Homo sapiens: one gene and its partners. The protein of the gene in region 3 purifies or fractionates together with the protein of the main gene of each other region. This does not show direct contact. Each region holds a gene or a part of one and is shown on either strand. Other genes may lie near its edges. The genes, in order: AMZ2, PGLYRP3 and CTSO.

Region 1 (4,351 bases), on a different chromosome or scaffold from region 3:
CACCTGCATGAATTTGTAGGTTGTGTGTGTTCTCATTGACTCTAAAGGAACATCTTGTTACAGAAACAGGAACTGGTTCTAGGAGTTTTACTCTCAAGCCATAGAAATATGCTTTACAGTAGCCCGTGAGCCATTTAATATATTCTTCACTGATAATTCTGGTGTTTCCTAGAGAGCCTACAATATGGAAGAACATTTAAAAACAGACTTTAAGATGATTATTCAGTGTTTACCCAGTCTATGAGTAAGAAGATTCAAATTAGAAACAAAACCAACTCTAAATTTTCAATAACCTTTATCATTCATTGGTGTTGCTATGAAACAAAAAGAAACAAAATGTTATCTTTTAAGTCAGTTTGGCTACAAAACTTGTACCGCCGCAATGAATATCAAAAACGATCCTAAAACGGCCCATCTGAATCAGACCCATAGCCTGGACTATTCCTGACAAGAGCGCCACTGCAAAACTGAACCAAAACCAGCACATTACCAGTATTTACCAATGGACTGTATATAAATGCTGCGTTTGTTTGGAGAGGGTGTCTTTCTGTAAGGATCACTGAAGAACTGTTCAAAGTCTTGGGGAGCCTCAGGGTGGGAGGTGATCCAATCTGATGGAGAATGCAAGGTAATGGGTCCAAAGAGATCACTGGCTGGCTGGAAGGCTTCATTCATTAAACGTTGTTCCCCAGCATTTAATTTCTCATACTGTGATACAAGCACTGGGTTCTTTGAGATGAGAGCTGTTTTTAGTGTCTGTTCGGAGTGCCGTATTATTTGCATCTAACAAAAAAAAGCAAGTAATCAAATATAAAAATACATATCTACATTGGGGACTTTACCTATCCTCTATATTTCAGCTCTGATTTCTCCCTAGAGTGAAATGACTGATTGCTAATGCTTTAGAGTGGTCACACTTAGAGTGGTTTCCTCATGTCCAATTTCTTGGAGATCTAAGAAATTAAAAAGACAATCATGAAATCCATTCCTCCATCTCATATGGAACCTGCTCCCATTACAAAAACTAGTGGTGGCCAGGTGTGGTGGCTCATGCCTGTAATTTCAGCACTTTGGGATAGGAGGATTGCTTGAGGCCAGGAGTTTGAGAACAGCTCAGGCAACATGGTGAGACCCTGTCTCTACAAAAAATTTAAAAATTCCCTGGGCATAGTTGTGCACATCTGTGGTCCTAGCTACCAGGGAGGCTGAGACAGGAGAATCACTTGAGCCCAGGAGCTTGAGGCTGCAGTGAGCCATGACTGTGCCACTGCACTCCAGCCTGGGCAAGAGTCCAAAACAAAAAAAAAAAACCTCACGGTGACCACAGGAGCAGGACCTCACACCCAACTTCCTTCTTTTGGGGAATAATATTGGCCTGGCACAGTGGCTCACGCTTATAATCCCAGCACTTTGGGAGGCCAAGGCAGAAGGATTACTTGAGCCTAGGAGTCTGAAATCAGCTTCGACATCATGGCAAAACCCCATATCTACAAAAAAATTAGCCGGATGTGGTGATGTGCACTTGTAGTCCCAGCTACTTGGCAGGCTAAGATGGGAGGATCATCTGAGCCCAGGAGGTCGAGGCTGCAGTGGGCCGTGATCGTGCCACTGCAGTCCAGCCTGGGCAATAGAGACTCTGTCTCAAAAAATAATAATATGAATTAACTCATCAGTGCCACATGAAAAATACTCATCGTTTCTAATGTGACTCAAAGATCTTCAACATCAAATAAAAACAAAACTAATGTAAGCCCTATCATTTCTGCAATTTAACTGCAGGCTGAGAAACTACAGCTTAGCCACTGAAGTTTATGGCCTCAAAGTCATGTCACATTAGGGAAGACATCAGATGACTAATCAAAAGCCAGCCTCACAATGACAGGTTTCTTCCATTCACATCGTGTTCCTATATAGAGCTTTCATCCTTCCTCTTGAATGGGTCCGATGTTCCACCACGAGGCTTTTTGAATTAAGGAAAAAGTTGAACATCTCTGTCTGGATCATCTTTGTCATATTTTCTAATTATTTAGATTTTGCCAGTTTAATGATAGACGATTGATGGGAAAACTTAAGCTAATGTCTGTTCTGATTGAACCTATAAATTCTGGGGTTGAAGAGGCTGACTAAAATTCCAGACCAAATGTCTCTGTACTCAAAGCTCTGATATAAGCATAGGCTCATCCTCACTCCTACACAACTGGGCTGAAATCTGACTTCTACAGGACAAAATATAAAACAAGATGTACCTTCCTGTAGTCTACCTACCTTGATTAGGAAGGAAGGCTCCCATGGAAGCTTTTAACTTACAAGGACGGACATGTCTGGGCCTGGCTGGAAGAAAGTTGTGGAGTGTGACTTCATCTTAATATTAAAAAGGCAGTGTGAAAGGTCAGGAGGCCTCCTCTTGCCTCCCAAGCCTAATCTAGGGAAGCTGCGGGAGAAGATGGGCAGGGGGCGCAGAATTCGGTCACTGCAGTGGGCTGGAGGCCTAGGATGCTTTGGTCCCAAAACCAGAACATCACGGGCAAACGGGAAGGAGCTGGCCACCCTGGCTGGTTGCCTATAGCAACTCGCACTGTGGGCTCTGGTCCATGCAGACACAACCCAGTCTCCAGCTGGGAGTGGAGTGGGGGTTCCCCAGGGACTCTCGCTTCGCCTCTTCTTCCCCAGGAGCCTCGGGAAAGGCCTCCCTGGCTCCCTAGAGGCACCGACCCCGCGGACCCCGCGGCTTCCGCCACGTCCGCCCCTCCTACATCCTCATCCCGCTCCACCGACCGCGACCGGCCCCCGCCTCTACGACCCGGCTACCCTGCCTAGGGGCCCCGGCCCAGCTCTGACAGCACCCGCGAACCGCCCTGACCCGACAGGCCTCGATACCACCCACCCGCGGCAGCCCTCACGCGCATGCGCACCGCGTCCCTTCGCACTGCGCCACGCCACGCCCACTGGCGCCACGCCCCTTACGCCACGCGCCGCGCCGCTGCGTCGCGCACGCCCTGTGGGCCCCGCCCAACTCACGACCCACCCATGCCACGCCCCTGAGCGTGCGGCCGCCTGGGCAGGCGCAGAGCTGGAGTTCAGCGGCCGCGACCCGCCTCTTCCAGAATAGAGGGTAGCGAGGGGACTACAAGCCCCAGCTGTCCACCCCCGCAGTCGCCGATTCCTCGCTTGCGCTCGCGGCGGCTCCGCGGCCCGGTTCTCGAGAGCCACAGATGCGCCCGCGTCGCTGGGGTCTCCCGTGTGGGAACGTCCTCGGCAGGCCGCGGGTTTGAGAGGCATCGCCGGCGTGACGAATGCAACCAGCGTGGCCCCAAATGAGTCGGCGGCCGCCGCAGGTTGACGTAGAGCCGCAGCGCTCCCCGGGGCCGTCACCCTCAGCACTTTCCCTTCTTTATTTGTTGGGGGCCGCGGGGGCTGGAACCCAGAAGCGCAAGTGTGGGGCGCGTCCTCGTGGCGTCCCTGGCGCTCCGAGGCCGAAACCCGGATGCTGAGGGGAGGCCGTGAGCTCGGAAAGGCACCGCGGGGCCGGCATTAGGGCTGAGCTAGCTCTGTACCCTCTGGTGGGACTTTCGGTCTCTCTGGGCCTCGCCATTCTCTTTCTTTTTCTTGCTTTTTTTTTTTTTTTTTTTTTTTTGGAGACGGAGTCTTGCTCTGTTGCCCAGGCTGGAGTGCAGTGGGACAGTCTGGGCTCAGTGCAACCTTTGCCTCCTGGGTTCAAGCGATTTTCCCGCCTCAGCCTCCCCAGTAGCTGGAACTACAGGTGCCCGCTATCACGTCCGGCTAATTTTTGTTATTTTTAGTAGAGATGGGGTTTCACCATGTTGGCCAGGCTGGTCTCGAACTCCTGACCTCAAGTGATCCGCCCGCCTTGGCCTCCCAAAGTGCTGGGATTACAGGCGTGGGCCACCGCGCCCGGCTTTTTTTTTTTTAATACGGGTTTTCACCCTGTTACCCAGGCTGGTCTCGAACTCCTGCGCTCAGGTGATCCACCCCCCCGCACCCCGGTCTCCCACAGTGCTGGAATTACAGGCGTGAGCCACGGCGCCCGGCCTGTTATTTTGAAGTCAAGCTATTTTACCATCCTCTGGATTTTCGTCATCCTAATTCTCCTTCCCAGTCTCAAGGAAAGACAGGCACATTTTCTTGATGACTTCAGCATTTGTAACCCCTTGTTGGCTCTCCTTAGAGGACATTAACTCTGAACCTTTCAACTTCGAGGATCTCTTTAGCCCTTCCTTATTTGTTCACTCTCCTGGATCATGAATTCTCCAAATTTGTCCTTTGAACCCAGTGCCCATATCCACCCTCACCTGAACCCATTCTTGAATAAAATGCATTCCTACCATGACTG
Region 2 (3,314 bases), on a different chromosome or scaffold from region 3:
TATATAAAACCAAACTGTAGCCTGACCACGTTGGGTACATGTTCTCAGGATCTGCTGGGGCTGTGCCACAGGCCGTGGTCACTAATATTTGGCTTAGAATAAATCTCTTCAAATATTTTACACAGTTTGACTCTTTGTCAACACCTTCCCTTGTTTCCAGATCAAAACCCGTGAAAACAAGAGCCAGCTCACGTGCTTCCGGTAAACAGCAGTACGTCATCATGCCCCCATCTGAAGAAAAGGAGCTTCCCTCTGGGCAAGAGGAGCCCAGGTAGGGAGGGCTACAGAGCACCAGGGCTCTGGGCTCTCTCTCAGCCCAACACCCAGTGGGACCCAGCCAGGCAAGGGCAAGTGGCAGGCACTGGGCAGCTTGTGTGGACACAGCCCTGGCCTGACCCAGAGAAGCACATGCTCCCTGCCTTCAGGGTGCTCTTGGGGGACATGGACGCGAGACCCTAACAATACAGCCACCATTACAGACAGACGACCAGAGCCAGCTCTGAGCCTTGGACTGGGAGGGAACAGGAACAGAGAGAATGCTGCTGGTGGGATGGGGACACTATCCAGGAAGGCTGCCTCAGAGGGGAAGTTCCGAAGCAAACTGGCAAGGTGAACAGGGACCTGGGTCCACTCATTCATTTATTCATCCATTTCTTTAACAAACATCTGTAGAACCTATTAAACTCCAAACACTGCTGAGGAACTGAGGATAGAGATGAATAAAATAGAATTCCTCCCTTGGAGAAACTTACAACCCAGAGGAGAGGACAGACATATCTATAAATCATATCTATAAATAATTACAGCCCTTAAGTAAGGGCTGCATCCAAATATGTACCAGTCCATGTGTGAGCAGAGAGGGGGGGTGGGCACACTGACCTAGGTCATGGGTGAGGGATGAAGGGTGGGGGCTTCCAGGCAGAAAACAGGGAAGGCTCACCAGGCAGAGGCGGGGAGAGGGGGAGAGAGAGAGAGAGAGAGAGAGAGTGAGAAAGCAAGAAAGAAGGTGAAAGGAAGGAAGGAAGGAAGGAAGGAAGGAAGGAAGGAAGGAAGGAAGGAAGGAAAGAAAGAAAAAGAAAGAAAGAAAGAAAGAAGAAAGAAAGAAAGAAAGAAAGAGAAAGGAAGCAAAGAAAGAAAGAAGAGGAGACAGGGGTTGGGGGGAGAGAGAGAGAAATGCCACAAGGACCAGCCCATTGTCTCGCCTGACTGAGGAGGTAAGTGCCCAGGGGAGAGGTAGGTAAAAGAGAGGGGAAGTCTAAACTCAGACCAAGAGGGCTGTGAATGCCCAGCTGTGAGGTTTGGGGGCTCCTGGAGGATGTTGGCAGGAAAGGACATGACCATTCAAACCTGAGAAAGGATGGGCTGGCAGGGGAGGGGGACACAAGGTGCTGAGCCACCTTGGCTGGTGAGGGTTGGAGAGACCCAGCAGGGGAGGGAGGGCAGTCTCAAAGGGAGTGGGGCCTCCTTCAGTGCTTGAAATGAGGCCAGGTGCTGATGATGTTATACAAAGCCTGCCCAGGGGACAGGATGTTGACCACGTCACTGTGGCCCATCAGCAGGTAGTTTGGAGTCAGGTACCCCTCAACCACGGCACACTGGATCAGGTCCTGGGCCGCCTCCAGCGCTGCAGCATTTGGAGGCTTTTCTGCAAAACACATTTTCCCCATCAGTCATTAGGGGCTCAAAGTTTCTTGATTAGGGAAGGGACAAGCACCTAGATTCCAGTTTCTTTCTTCCTCCACCACGCCCCATTCCGCCATCACCATAGCCAACACATTTACGTAAATTGTGGCAATCAGGCACAAAAAGAAAACAAGGTCATTGCTTTCTCTGATTCCTCCGTGCCAAAGTTTCTTCCAGAAGGTTAAAAACTGCTGTGGAGGGGGCCAGGTGCAGTAGCTCACGCCTGTAATCCCAGCACTTTGGGAGGCCAAGCAGGCGGATCACGAGATTAAGAGATCGAGATCACCCTGGCTAACATGGTGAAACCCCATCTCTACTAAAAATACAAAAAAATTAGCCGGGCGCCTGTAGTCCCAGCTACTCGAGAGGCTGAGGCAGGAGAATGGCGTGAACCCGGGAAGTGGAGCTTGCAGTGAGCCGACATCACGCCGCTGCACTCCAGACTGGGAGACAGAGCGAGACTCCATCTCAAAAATAAATAAATAAATATAAAAAACTGTTCTGGAGGAGAACTGCAGCACAACACACCACTTCTGAGCAGGTATAAAGCAGATACAGCACCACTGGGCCGCCCACTGGTTTTCCATAACAGGCAGTGGTGCTCCCCAAATTGTTGCCATGGCTAACAAGAAAGGGGACACATTTGCCAACTGAGCGATAAAAGCACTGAAGTTTGCAAAAGACGTTTCCCCCCTTGCTCCATGTTTGCCTTGGATATAAAGCAAGGTGGAGCTGGGCATGGGGATGGGTGGATTTGGGGGTAAATGCTCTGTCTGAAAGGGGATCCTGGTGACATCCTGTATTAAGAGTCCACTTTAAAGCTAAAATGTTCCATTCACACTGCCAGGCACTACAGGGCTGCCTTTCCCGCCATGCTTCCCAGACATGCTGCATGGTCCTTCAACCCCCAGCACCCCTCTACCCCATGCTCACCCCTTACCTACAAAGTAGCCGATGAAGGCAATTCCTAGGGCAATATCGTTGAATCCATAAGTGTGAGAGCCTTGGATGTGCCATCCAACCCCTTCATACACGCCACCATCCTGGCCCACCAGGAAGCTTAGGTCAGGAAAAGAAAATGAAGACAGTCACTCTGGGAAACAGAATTTAAATACTTCATTCACTCCTTCAACCACTCATTCATTCTTTCATCCATTCATCCAATATTGACTGGAGATCTCTTATGTGCCAATGTGGACAAGGACAGAAAACAAAACAAAACAAAAAAATACCACAGTCCACTTCAACCTGGCCTTTGTTCCCATCACACCACTAAATCTGACCCCTCCAAGGTGAGCAGTGGCTTCCTGGCACTAAGTACAATGGACACTTACTTTACTTCTAGACTACACTGACCCTGTTGACCACTCTCTTAAAATGTTCCCTTCCCCGGGCTTCCACAACCACAACCCTCCTTGTTCTCCTCCTCCTGCTGCTCCCTCAGGCCCCTCTCCCACCCCACCTTACCTTCCTCAAACATGGTGCTCCTCCGCACTCTAGTCTAGGCCATTCTCTCACTCAACGTATTCACCCTGGACAATCATTGCCACAGCTTCAAGTACTACCTGTAAAAACAGTCCAAGCAAACCCACCTTCTTCTAAAATTTATCCAGCTAGAAAATTGGACAACA
Region 3 (4,281 bases):
GGCCATCTATTTACACATAAATAAATATTCCTAAATATATAAATAATCTTATAATAATATAACCTGTGTCATTACGGCAACTGGTCTTAAGGTAAAGCTTTGGAAATTTTATGTAAAATCACATGTACTTTGGCATAGATATTATTCTAAAGTGAGTGTATCAAGCAAATTTTATTGGATCCAATATTGGGTCTGTGCCTCCCAAAAGGATAAGAATACCAAATGTTCTGTGGTAAAATAATGAGCATCAGTAAATATGAGGGCATAGCTAGGTTTTGGCACAAAGGAGAGTAGGCTAAATCCAATAGTTAAGAGCTTCCTGAGCACTGGAAGTTTCTAAAGGAGTGAAAGTGCAGAGATAAGGGGTGCCATCCAAAGTCAGGTGTCTTGTGAGGCATCCCATAATAAACCATAGTGGAGTCTAGTTTTCACTGAACAATACTATAATATTTTGTGGGAAAGTCATGGGCTAACCTAACTTTCATTTAACGTGCATTCCTGGGAAACTTACAAAACTATCTAAGGCTAAGATTAAAACAAATTTTAAAACCTTCACCATTCTCTAAACCCATGACCATGAAAGACATTACTAATTAATCAAGGACTTTCTTGAACCAGATCTTCAGCTGCAAACCCCTGAATCATCAATTCACCAATGAATTAACTTGATTTCAACAAGAAGTTTCACGGTTACCAAGGAGGCAAGGCCCTTTCCACCTTTCCCACTGTCCAGCTCTCTATCCCAAGTCCGAACAGCAATCTCCAGCTAACTAATCTAACTAATTCCTGATGATCTTAGATGAAAGACTTTCATCCCAAATCCATCCATCTCCCCCACTTCCCTCCTCCCGTCCATGGAAAAAATGTCTTCCATGAATCCGGTCCCTAGTGCCAAAAGATTGGGGACCACTAAGGTAGAAAATCGGTTTTAAAGCATTCTTGGATAAAGTCCAACTAAGCACCGAGAGGTGTTCAGTTTCCAGCAACTGTGCGTTGAAGCCTCAATGTTCTCTTTTTTGGGTATCCATCTCATGAAGCAAATTCTTACAGGCAGCAATTGCTTTGAAAATTTTTTCAGTATTTCTTAACCCGAGGTTTTTAAAATGTACTAAGAGTCTTCATAATTCGATCCTCCTCCACTTCCAACTTTCCATCTTTCAACCTGTTTCTTTGTATTTCTCCTGAGAAAAGTTACATTTTCTAGACATTCATCAGGGTATGGCCTCTTTACAGGACCAGTATGAGTCACTACATAAATTATACACATATATATTTATAAATTATCTAAAATCTAAATAAATGTTAAAAATATATTTATAAGTCTAGCCCTTTGAGCTTTGTCCTGAAATATTATTTTTAGGAGCCTGACAGTGTGTTTATTTATTTAGCCAATGAATACGTTACCAATAAAGGTGAAACTGACTTTTCCCCTAAGGGGTTTCGTTTACCAGGAAAACGAACGTAAGTTGAGGATAGGGGTAGAATACAGGCCAGAATTTTGTTCTTGAAAGAGTAAGAGGACTTCTGGTTTTGAAAGCTAGAACTGAACTCAAGAATAATAAAGTGGAGATAACAGTACACATCTCGGTTTGGACAAAACGTAAGAGTGGACAGAATCAGGGAAGGCTGGCCTTCCTAAACATTGGAGCTTTCCAGGAGAGTCGGGGGAAAAGAGCACAGCTATGAAATCCTGTGAGAAATTCCAACAAACACCAGGAAAAAAGATACACTTCCTTGAGCAATATTACTCAACTCAGACTTATGTTTGATTCAGAATGAAAGAATTTTCTTTTCCAATAAATTAAATCATGATAATGGCATCTTTCATGAATTTAAAAATGTGTTAAATAGTATCAGCTATCTAGAACATAGTGAGGCGAACACTAAATCGGCATCCCTTGCAGTTTCCTTGGTTTCAGGAAAATCATTATTTGTGCTCAGCTAACTGGTCCCTTCCAGAGTTTTCATGCTAGACTCAAATCTAAGTATTTATTATAAATATTATAAAATATAAATTATATTATATTTCGTATAATAATATGAAAAGGAAATTAAATGCTTCTCTTTTCTTCAACTCAGTCTCCGCCAAGGCAGGAAGAACTTTTAAAGTGGTGCGTTAGTTTAAGGAGAATCATAAACCATCAGGATTCTTTAATCTGGCTAAAGACAGGCTCTTTGTTTCTAACTTCTGATCACTAGCGCCCTCCTCGGGAAAAAAAAACACGACAGGTTTCTTCCACCAACAGGCTGCTCCCTGTTTCTGGTTCTCATAAAAGAGAAATAGAAGAGCTTTGGAAGCCAGTGGCAACGATAGAGGGGATTGCTAAAAGGGGGTGCTTCTTCCCACCAAGGACACTTTGGACGTATCTATGGATTTATTTGGGTGCGTCCCAAAAATCCATAGCGACAAATCTCTTCTGGAAAATCAAGTCTTTTGGTTAGCAAAGGCATGGGGGAGTGACACCATGGCACAAGGAGAGGGGAGAGAGAAGCTGGCTTTTGCACCCGCAGCTCAGGGCCCCAGACGCATCGCAGAGCCACGGGTGCCCACGAGCAGGGTCAGCTCTCGGGGGCCCTCTTCCGCAGCCCAGACCCGGGACAGGAAGTGAGGGAGCAGGGACAGATCCCGGGGAGGCGCGCGCTCGGTACCCGGAAGGCGGCGGCTTCACGCTCGCGGCTCCGCGGCCAGGTCGGGGTGAAGGGGGCGCGGGAGTCCGCATCGCCGCCGCCCCGGCACAGCAGCCACAGCAGCCACGGCAGCCACGGCAGCGCCCGCACGTCCATTGCGGCGCCCGGCTCCTCTGCCGCCCGCGCGGCCTGTTTTCTCTTTCGGTTCCTCGGCTCCTCCCAGCCTGGGCTCGAGGGGCGGAAGGAGCTGGGTTGAGTGCACGATGCTGAGATTGACCCTTTTTTAGGTCCCCGGTGTTCTGTGACTGAAAATCCGGTCAGCTGGAGGCTACGGACCTCCTTGCTGAGGCTAGTTTTTTTGTTTTTGTTTTTGTTTTGGAAGAGTCAGGCACTTGACCATGTGCTTTCGAGGTTTCACTTCCATCCATTAGAAAAAAAGAAGCCTGAGAGTCATTCTTTTGTGTGTGTTGAGATCAGGTCTCACTGCAGCCTCGACCTTCAGGTTCAAGTGCCTCCTGCCTCAGCCTCCGGAGTACCTGGGACTACAGGCGCGTGCCACCACCCCAGGCTATTTTTGTATTTTTAGTAGAGATAGGATCTTGCCATATTGCCCAGGCCGGTCTCGAACTCCTGGACTCTAGTGATCCACCCGCCTTGGCCTCCCAAAATGCTCACAGGTGTGAGCCACCTGGCCTGCCCTGTGAGCCACCGGAAGCTGCCTTTTTCCTTCTTGCCACAATCCCTAAGTTCAAGACCTAGTTCTGAAGTGATGTGGGCCAATACATAGAGTCATCCATTCAGCAGATGTTTATAAATACGTAACAAAATTGTACAGATGTGAAAAGCATACACAGTTTTTGGATCTATTATGGCAGTTTCAAAACTCTTGAAGCCTGTTTCTCCGTTTGCAAAGGAAGATAGAGCCAAGTACATAATTTGCAGGGTTCCGTGTAAACTGAAAATGAAGTTCCCTTGTTCATAAATTGTGAAGAATTTCAAGACGGCAACAGCAGAGCATTAACCCAAGCCATGGGCCTTCTAAGCACCCACTTCTGCACAGGTCACACACTCATGAACCTGGCTCTACCGAGCCTTTCTATTATCATCTATTCTGAACAAGGCTTCCATGTCTGTGAAATTCATATCATTACCCTTGTAGATTTTTAGAACTAACATCAGATTTATGTCTTTAGTTTTTACCTAGGTGCAGTGAGTTACAATATTCTCCAATGCAAACTTCGTAATAAAAATAAAAATAATGTTCCGAGTATTAAGAGGAAAGACACAAGAGTTTTTTATGTACGTTCATGATAAGATATATTGCTCTTGGCAAGTGTGGTGATAAAGATTTTATTTAAATCATAAGTTCACAGAACGATGTTCATGTTTACCTCAGCAGTTCTTTTGTACTTAGCCCTTTTTTGTGACTCATACAAGCACATACTTTTCTTTTTAAACTGAACTTTGCTTTCAGATCATAGTCCCTGTTTATTGACAACCTACGGAGTCAGGAAATTTAAATATAGGCAGTCATCTTTACTTTAGGATAATTGGTATTGTAAAAAAGCCCCTTGAACTAAACTCATTTCAGGAGCTCACATCAAGTATTTATTGAGTACCTGCTAAGTGTCAGGCATTCTTCTAGGTAATGAG

The links.
Region 1: the proteins of CTSO (region 3) and AMZ2 purify together in Homo sapiens (affinity purification with mass spectrometry, with the first as the bait; one large-scale study listed by BioGRID). This does not show direct contact.
Region 2: the proteins of CTSO (region 3) and PGLYRP3 purify together in Homo sapiens (affinity purification with mass spectrometry; one large-scale study listed by BioGRID and IntAct). This does not show direct contact.

What each region holds. Positions count from the first base shown.
Region 1 is NC_000017.11:68,246,620-68,250,970, reverse strand, and holds the start of AMZ2 (archaemetzincin-2), read right to left. Parts: upstream 2,929-4,351; 5' UTR 2,266-2,928; intron 786-2,265; exon of another isoform or gene 784-785; coding exon 501-783; coding exon of another isoform or gene 491-500; intron 178-490; coding exon 4-177; intron 1-3. UniProt on the Homo sapiens protein: Probable zinc metalloprotease.
Region 2 is NC_000001.11:153,296,490-153,299,803, forward strand, and holds the end of PGLYRP3 (peptidoglycan recognition protein 3 precursor), read right to left. Parts: intron 3,249-3,314; exon of another isoform or gene 3,151-3,248; intron 2,743-3,150; coding exon 2,624-2,742; intron 1,646-2,623; coding exon 1,467-1,645; 3' UTR 627-1,466; downstream 1-626. UniProt on the Homo sapiens protein: Pattern receptor that binds to murein peptidoglycans (PGN) of Gram-positive bacteria. Has bactericidal activity towards Gram-positive bacteria. May kill Gram-positive bacteria by interfering with peptidoglycan biosynthesis.
Region 3 is NC_000004.12:155,951,064-155,955,344, forward strand, and holds the start of CTSO (cathepsin O preproprotein), read right to left. Parts: upstream 2,804-4,281; 5' UTR 2,785-2,803; coding exon 2,650-2,784; intron 1-2,649. UniProt on the Homo sapiens protein: Proteolytic enzyme possibly involved in normal cellular protein degradation and turnover.